Homo sapiens: one gene and its partner. The protein of the gene in region 2 purifies or fractionates together with the protein of the main gene of each other region. This does not show direct contact. Each region holds a gene or a part of one and is shown on either strand. Other genes may lie near its edges.

What was found. The genes of interacting proteins can lie anywhere in the genome.
Region 1: the proteins of SLC17A6 (region 2) and ORC4 purify together in Homo sapiens (affinity purification with mass spectrometry; one large-scale study listed by BioGRID and IntAct). This does not show direct contact.

The regions. Positions count from the first base shown.
Region 1 is NC_000002.12:147,946,964-147,951,237, forward strand, and holds part of ORC4 (origin recognition complex subunit 4), read right to left. Parts: intron 1,262-4,274; coding exon 1,088-1,261; intron 1-1,087. UniProt on the Homo sapiens protein: Component of the origin recognition complex (ORC) that binds origins of replication. DNA-binding is ATP-dependent. The specific DNA sequences that define origins of replication have not been identified yet.
Region 2 is NC_000011.10:22,368,673-22,373,720, forward strand, and holds part of SLC17A6 (vesicular glutamate transporter 2), read left to right. Parts: intron 1-1,366; coding exon 1,367-1,516; intron 1,517-5,048. UniProt on the Homo sapiens protein: Multifunctional transporter that transports L-glutamate as well as multiple ions such as chloride, proton, potassium, sodium and phosphate.

The sequences.
Region 1 (4,274 bases), on a different chromosome or scaffold from region 2:
TATTTTAAAAAAATGAAATGTGTCAAAATACTGCTTACATGAGCAGACTATATTTTATAATCAAACAATAATCATTTAAAGAACAAACTAAATGCAAAACGCTTCCAATTTAGTATTAGTATTTAAAAATTCACGGTAAAAATACAATCTACCACTATTGCTTTAAAATAAAATGATCCTTTTTATAGAGTCAGTGAATATAGACTGTGTAATTCTATTCAAAGATCTAATTATCCTTACCGGTATTTTAACATTATAAATCAGTTTTTCCCAATTCCTTCAGAGCCAGGGACTCTATATTATTTTCCACTCTCACGAGGCCAATATTTTTTGAGATTCTAGCATAAGGGACTTATTCATTAATGATGTTTTTCAATTATATTATTAAATACACACACATATGCATACTTCCTCCTTTCTCTTTGCCAACTGAAACTTTTTGACAGCGTAAGATTAAAATGCTAGTGTGTTGAGAATATTTTAAGCACAGGTAAATTTATAGTCTCAAAGGTGTGGCAAATCTTTAAAACAACATATGAACCTGCCTTTGTATCTAAGACTCTCAAGTCTCCAGGGACTGTGAGATGTGATCACCTATTAGATAATATAACTGGAGGTGCCACAGTCTGTACTGCCTCTTAAGGCCCAACAAAATAAAAGCTGAAGTTGCTAATGAAAACTGGAAGAAAAAAAATATCCACACATAATAGGTATGAGTCATTAACATTTATTTATCATTATTTACTATTTATTATTATTGCTAAATATGTAAAATATATAAAATAAAATTATCTAAAATATAAACCACATACAGATAAAACTAAAGCCTCATTAAAGTTTACTTCAAACTAATAACATAAATCCTAAAGCTTAACTGTGATGTTCTTTTGAGATAGAATTTAGGAGAAATGACATTTCAACTGTCTAAGAAGAAAATTTTTAAAAAGTATATAATTTGTATTACTGCAGCATTATCCTTCAGCAATATTAGAAACTTTGTGTTAATTTACTAATTTCTAAAATTTGTGTTTTAATTGCTTTAAATCATATAGCAAGGAACATTTAGCTTTATTGCCTTTTAAGATACCTGAACATTTTCATTCCACTTCTCAGCAAAAACCTTGTCTGGAAACTCTGCAGGTAGAGATAACTGTTCTTTAAATATTTTAACATACTGTGGAAAACCAAATGAATTCATTAAGTGTATCTGCCGGTGAGAAAATCTTGACTTCACTCTTTTTTCTAAGAGTTCCAAAATATCCTTAAAAACAAACAGAAATCTCTATAAGGAAGATGAATGTTTTTAAAAAAACAAAAACACTGTACCAATGTTAGAGGTATAAGTAAACTATCACCTATAATTAGTAATGTTTAGTCTACAATACATAATTAAACATTTAAAACATTTTATGCAAACTAAATAATCCACCTCCAGGCATTTGCTGGCTTGGTGATGTCATGCCTTTTTCCCACCATGTTACTCTCAGCTAATCTGTAACATTCCAAGACCCAACATGACTGTTTAAAAAAACTGACAATATTGAATAGCTATATGTCACAATAACACCAAGAGTGTCAATAAGGAATTCTGTACATTCTATGAAGAACTGAGATTAAAAAATTAATAGCATGATAGGCAGCAGGAACCAACTTTAGGAGAGGAAAGTGGCAGAAATGCAACATGGCATTCGTAAGTTATCTTCCGGCTTTTTTTTTTTTATAGTAATGCTTTTAGACTCTATTTGTATTTGTGCTATTTTTCCTTAAAAAGAAATCAGGAATCAAATTTACTGTCAAAGAACACTAAAAACCAAAGGATAACTAATATGTACTGCTTGTAAGGACATACGAAGTGTTCTTAAATGAAGAAAATACTTCCACAAAACTGATAGGCATTCAAACTATCCAAGACATCAAAAGCACAATAGGTAAGCTGTCTTCCTAAGTCACATATATTGCAGGAACTGTCATTCCTAAATCTCTTTTTAATAATGAACTTGAGCAATTTTTCAAAATATATTATAGTACACAGCATATTATATATAATATATATAATTTATATTATATATGTATATATACATCTATATATATACAGTATAGTATAATATATATTTATTACTTAAGTTACACTCCAAGGTATACAACCAAGACAAATGAAACCAGATAACCACAAAAAAAGTGTATGTGAATGTTTGCAGCAGTATTATTTTTAATAGCTTAAGAAATATAAACAACCCAAATGTCCATCAACTGATGAATGGATAAACAAAGTGTGGTATATCTACACAACAGAATATTATTTGGTAATAAAAAGGAATAAAGGGCTGATATATGCTGTAACACAGATCAACTCTGAAAACATGTTAAAGAAGCCAGTCACACAAAACTATACGTTGTATGATTCAAAAATTACTAAACAGTCAGAAAGTGGATTAGCAGATTAGTGGTTGCATAGGGCTGGGGAGGGAACAGGGGATTTGGGGTGATCACTAAAAGGTACGTGGCTCTTAAACTGTGGTGATAAATGCACAACTCTATGAATAAACAAAAACCCTGTTAATTGTATAATTTAAATGAGTGAGTTGTATGGTATAAATTACATCTCAATAAAGCTGTTTTAAAAACAGTGACATGATATTTGATGACTTTAAGGAATTACAGCTAATATAACAATTATATTAGGGAAATATATTTTTAAAGAGCTCTTATCTCCTAAAAATACATTCTAAAATACTTACTGATAAAATGATATAATACCTAGTTTTTGCCTCAAAATAATACAGGAATGAAAGGAGATGTTGAGGATAAATAAAATTAGTCTGTAGTAATTGAATCTTGGCAATGAGTGGAGAAGGGAATTCAGGGCTCATTATTTATTCTTTCCTATGTATATTGTTGAAATGTTATAAAGATTTTTAAAAGGGGAGTAGTTTAAGCCCAGAAATATACATCTCCACATCTAGCCAGATGACTCTCATAATACCTACGTGAAGAAATCATGATATAGAGGAAAGAATTCAAGTGATCAAAATGGGATCATGGTTAGTTTGGGAAGGTGGACAGGAAAGACTAATAGCCTGAGGTAGGAGGTGGGAGGGTGAATAAAAAATTTTGAATGTTTTTATGAGGTCAAAGAAAAGTATAGTGCCAGCATGAGAACTAAAAGACAAGAAAGGTTATATTCAGAGATTCAGATATTGTACATTTATTTTCTATTAAGAAAGAGTTCTAGGTCACCCATATAGGTAGACAGTGGAAGTAATAATCTATACAAGCAACAATTCAGACCCTAAATTTGGGAATGAAAAGAGATGGAAGTAAATACTGTCTTTGTAGTAGGCAGTAATGACAGAAGTTGGCAATGTGGGCATACAGGAACTAGTAAAAACAAAACAAAACCAAAAAACAAAAATGGAATTACTCCCAATGGGGAAGAAGATGCTTGCTGGCAAAGTCACTACTCCCTCTATACTTTTGTTCTCTCCCTATAAACGTGGATACACAGATAAAATTATACTTGAGGCCAGGCGCAGTGGCTCACGCCTGTAATCCCAGCACTTTGGGAGGCCAAGGGGGGTAGATCACGAGGTCAGGAGTTCGAGAGCAGCCTGGGCAACATGGTGAAACCCCATCTCTACTAAACATACAAAAATTAGCCAGGCATGGCGGTGTGTGGCTGTAATCCCAGCTACTCGGGAGGCTAAGGCAGGAGAATTGCTTGAACCCCGAAGGTGGAGGTTGCAGTGAGCCGAGATTATGCCATTGTACTCCAGCCTGGGCGACAGAGCAAGACTCCATCTCAAAAAAAAAAAAAAAGAAAAAGAAAAAAAATTACACTTGAAAGAACTACACAGTTGGAGAATTATATATATACAATAAAAAAGAACATCTGATAACACTGCTAAGAAGTTACTGGCATTTTATTTGGTCCGTTATTGGGTCAACAACACTCACCACAGCCACTTCCACCCAAAGGAAGATTTTTTTTTTTTTGGCAAGAAGGAGGATGCTTCTTTGATCCTTGTCATCGCCTGCTGCTTTTGGCAAGGAGGAATAAAGATATGTGGAGCACCAGCCAGTGATGTATGAGGGATGTTTATACTAAAGCCATGTATCATAAGCTCTAGAGCACAGGAAAGGAGGGGCAAATGACAGTCACTCTATAGAGAAACAGCACTGGAAGGAGGACTGTTGAAATATGAATTAGAAAAAAGTTTCACTTTTCTGAAAAAGAAAAAGGGTTGTAGGAAAGGAGATGTGAACATGTAAATGTG
Region 2 (5,048 bases):
TTCTTATGCTAACATAATACTATAATGCAGACATTTCTGTCTTCTGACATTTTTATTATCTTTGAAATAAGTGTACGCATCTGGAATTATTTTCCCAGAACATATTGATTTCTTTTTAAAAACTGTACTTTTGGAACCCATTTATGACACTGCCACTAAAATTTTTTATCCAAAGCCACAGAATTCATTACATAGTATTAGGACAGATTTTTGTTTTTGTTTGTTTCTTTTTTTGTCTTGCATATATTTATGATCACCACATCATAACTTCCTACTGTGTTGCATTTAAAGTGATCTTTAAAAGGCTTAATTACAGCCACAACCAATACTAGCAATTATGAGGTTTTCCATTCAGGAATAATTGTTAAATCCACGTGAAAGGTGTTTGCTTCCTCTTTCAGTAATTTAGTTAGGTCAAGGATCCCAAGTTAACTTTTAACAAAGTTATTTTAGGCTACTGTTTCCTCACCAAGCAGTATTTTGGTGTTCAGAATAAAGTAATTGAGAAATAATTAGGGAATATGAGAGATATTTTAATGGCTAAAAATATTAGTCTTGGGGGAGAATATGTACTTGCTTACATTTTGGCATACACTGAAACTTTAAGTACAATTAGGTTTAATTTTTTAAAGGGGTCATATGCAAAGCTGATCATATTTAGGTTGTTAATGTTGAATGCTTTGAATATTTTAAGTAACTAATTATGTGCCAAAGGTACGCTGGGGGTAGACAAATGCTTTCACCCAGCTGTTCTGAGTTTTATAGAACCTTGAACTCCAGTGTCACAGAATTTATAGTTATAGCTACTAGCTATCAAGATAATTTATGATTGATTGATAGTAGAATAATTGACTTAGATTGATTGGTAGTAGAATAATTGACTTCAGGTAGGGTCTAGAATACTGTACTCTTAAGATTTTGTATCTTTCTTTTCATGAATACATTGGATTTTCAACGTTTTAAATGAAATGTTTTGGATATCACAAGCTCACTGATGTGGCAGTGAGTTTTTGCTGAGATATGGTCTATCACCATTAAAAAAATAAAACAAATGGAAAAAAAAACCTTAAGAAACTAGGACCTATGCTTTTGGAATCAATTTTCTATAATTATGTAATCCTGCATATTCCTAAAGCTGGAACAATCTAATAAGTTGCAGTGATTGAGATCTTATTTTTTTTCTCTTCCAATGATTATTTACGTAGCTAAGGTTAACTGGGTGGTTATAATTAATGCTTCACTACATCTTCCTACTTCCTACTTATGACCTGTCATATACATCCTGAAAATGCAAAGCACCTATTATTCCCACTTAGGTTTGAAAATATTTAAAATGGTCATAATGTCTCTCTTTTTGGAATTTCAGAAATTCAAGACTCCATGGAGGAAGTTTTTTACATCCATGCCAGTCTATGCAATAATTGTTGCAAACTTCTGCAGAAGCTGGACTTTTTATTTATTGCTTATTAGTCAGCCAGCATATTTTGAGGAAGTCTTTGGATTTGAAATTAGCAAGGTATGTAAAATGTATTCTTATATAAATTGTGGATTACCTGTGTATTTAAGTGAATACTAAATTCATTTGCAAAAATTTTTATCTTCTAATTTTCAGAGATTATTCATTTATTCATTAAACAAATAACTGCTAGGAAATAGAAGCAAAGTAAAATGTTTCATTGTCTACTGTATTCTGTTGTCTGCTAGAATTGCTCTCTGGTACTGAGAATACAGGCAAAACAAACCTAGTTTCTGCCTTCATGGAACTTAGAGCCCAGTTGGAGCGAGCAGCGGTGTAATCTTTTCCCTGTAAATAAACATAACTCCCTTTAAGTCTCAGCTCACAGACAATGTAACAAACAAAAAAAGTATTCCATTCAAATAGAATTCTACTTACAAATTTCCAATCTAATTATTCTTCAATGCTCTTAGAACTCTTGTCCAGCTACAAGATATGAGGATTGTAAAAAGAAAATCTGAAAACACTCTTATATTTTGTCCATCCAATCTATTAATTTAACAAGTATTTGTTGAACACAATGTGCAGAACTTTATGTGAGATGCAGAAATAAAAACATGGTTTCTGTCCTCAAAATGCTCACAGCTTGGTGGTGTAAACGTGAAAGTAAGTTACCAATTAGAATACAGCATGCTAACTTCCACAGACATTTGTTCAGAGCTATGGGAATATAATCATTTTGAGATTTTCTATGAGGATAAAATGAACACAAAAATACTACTCTATCTTTATATAGGAACTCGAAATTTAGAAACTACTCTCATATTCATGAACAACCTTTGTTGTTTGACCTGTTGAACAACAATCGTCATTTCTATTGAAATGATGGGGAAACAGAAACTAGAGAAAGCATTTAAATTGCTTAAAGCCACGCTAGTAATGCACGACAAAATCAAGTTTAGACAAAGATTCTTTGATTTCTGTTTAATTATCTTTACTATGCCATTCAAATTCAGGTAAATCATATATCCATTCAAGTATTTAGTGAGTATCTGCTCAATGCCATCTCTGTGCCAAGCCCTTTGCTAAGTCCTGAATACATTGTCTGTGCTGGCAATGGTCTTGCTATCTCTCTTCATGTCATTACATAAGTCCAGCTGGGCTCGCTATTCATATTCTATCTCTACTTGAAAGACTATCTGAGACCTGGGACTGAAGAAAACCTCAGTTTAGGAGTAGCTATTCTAAGAGCTCTTTTGTAATTCCTGTTTCTAAGGAAACTGTTTCCTCCATCCCCGAGAAGAATGGCTGCTTTAGACAGAGCTCTTCTCTCTAGAGCTGATCAAACATTCCAGGGTAGCCTTTGGGAACTCTGAGAGGTGTTATACTTCTCAACAAAGGCTGCTGGAGGTGTGCGTCCATTTTCATAATCTAGGACAAATATGATACCGACAGGCTATTAATAAAGCCAGTTCTCGGGGGCAGAGTGAGGAAGCCAACTGATGTTAATGAAACTGTGTGGTCATTTTGGTCCTGTAGCTCCAATTAATTGAGAATGCTTGAGTAAAAGCAATGGTATTTTGCAAAAAGTAATTATAAATCAACCAGCAGATGGGTTGATTTATTTCATTCATTAGTTATATTTTTAAATAAAATTGTGGATAAATTCACACACACAGATTGGTCTTCAGATACTAATTAGATTAGTTTAAAAAATTCTGACTTAGCTGAAAAAATTGTATAGGAGATGATGGAGAACATAGGGAATTTGCTTTGGGTCTAGACTGACATGGCTTCAAATCTAAGTTCTACAACAAAGTATTGGTATATAATCTTGGGCAGCGTTTTGAATAATTATCGGCTTCAATTTTCTTATCTCTAAATAATGGTATTAACTTAATACCATTAAATGATAATGATATTATTTAAGAAGTGCAGCCAAATTTAGGTGAAGTAAGTAAAATATTTACATGGAGGGTCATTCTCTGCAACTTTAGTTAAATTGGGTATCCTACAGAAAAAAATATGAGTGCAATGGCTTAACCTTCATTCTAAGTATACTGACTTAGTTCAGACAGCACTGTATATATAAATAAAATTGTAACATAGATTTTATATCAGTTAGCTATATGTTAATTGTATTAGTTAACTGAGATATACATATATATATCATTATATATTGGCATAGGCTAATACAATATATATCAGGTAAATACTTTTTTCATTTTTTAAAACAAGTATATATATATATACACACATACACATATATATATATAATTTAATATATTATATCAGCCTATGCTTATATGTAACATATTCAGGCCCTTGAAAATGGCATATCAGCGGGTCAGTGCTAGGATTAACCAGCACTTTCAAAGGTCAGATTATAGGGGCAAGCCAAATGAGAATAGACATCCATTCCTTTTGAGCTTCCTATTTAGGGGAGGAGAAGAACAGTGTTGGCTGGTTGTGCTTTGCTGCTATTTCTGAACAAGACGTGGATCAGATAGGAAGACATACGATCTAGACTATGACCCAGAAAAGCTAAAAGAAGGATGAGGCAAAAATCTAATTACCTGGAGTTTCTATGAAGAATAAATCAATTATAAGCTCAAAAACATTTATCCTAGCCTTGCAAAACCTTAAAATAATAAGCACACTTGTATGTGATTGACATGAATGATCTTTAGGAAGGTTTTGATCATTTTGATCATGTGTCAAGTGATTACTCATGATAAGTCCCCAAAAGCCAAGAAGACCACTGAATAGCTCAAAAACTTGAAACCTCTTTGGCTCTTTTGAGGTCAAATACAGAGTATATCCACATATTAAGAAAATAGGAGAGTCAATACCCTTAAATGTTAAATCAATATGCTAAAATAGTCTAAAACTTATCTCATTAACCCTGTAGATTTTTAGCACCTTGCATTTTCCATAGTGCTTTGCACACCCTTTGCTGAAAGTGTGAAAAAATAACCATAGCTTTGTTCCTTTCTTATCCAAAGTAGTCAAAATGATTGTTCAAATAGATAGTAAATAACAGAGGATTTTCAATTAAAAAACTTTTCAGATGTATTAAATACTGGGTCAGAATGAAAGTCGTTTATGTGGACTTAGGCAATGTGGTTACTCCCAAACTTTTAGCCTGCCTTTATAAATGCCAAAAATATGCCATGTAATTCTATACAAATCCTAACATAGTGTCTTTCAGAATGTTTTTGTTGTTGTTCAAAGGTTTCTTTCTACACATTGACTGCTTGAAATATATTTACTCCATATTAAGAATAAAAAGCCTTGTACTTTTCTCAGGATGCTAGTCTCAAAAGCAATAATGATTTTTTTTTTTAATGTCAGTTTACCTGACATCTTTATTTAGGTACCTGTTGAGCCCCTGCTACATACCAAGTTTTGTACTAGACTAAGCACATTAATATATATTGTCTGATTTTATTTGATTTTTCCTTCTCATGGCAGTGGTGCTCAGCATAAAGGCTAAGAGCCCAGTCTTTCGACTCACGTAGAACTGATTCAAAACTTGGCTCTCACAATCACTTAAGTCTTCTGACTCTAAATTTTTTTTATTTAATAAGAA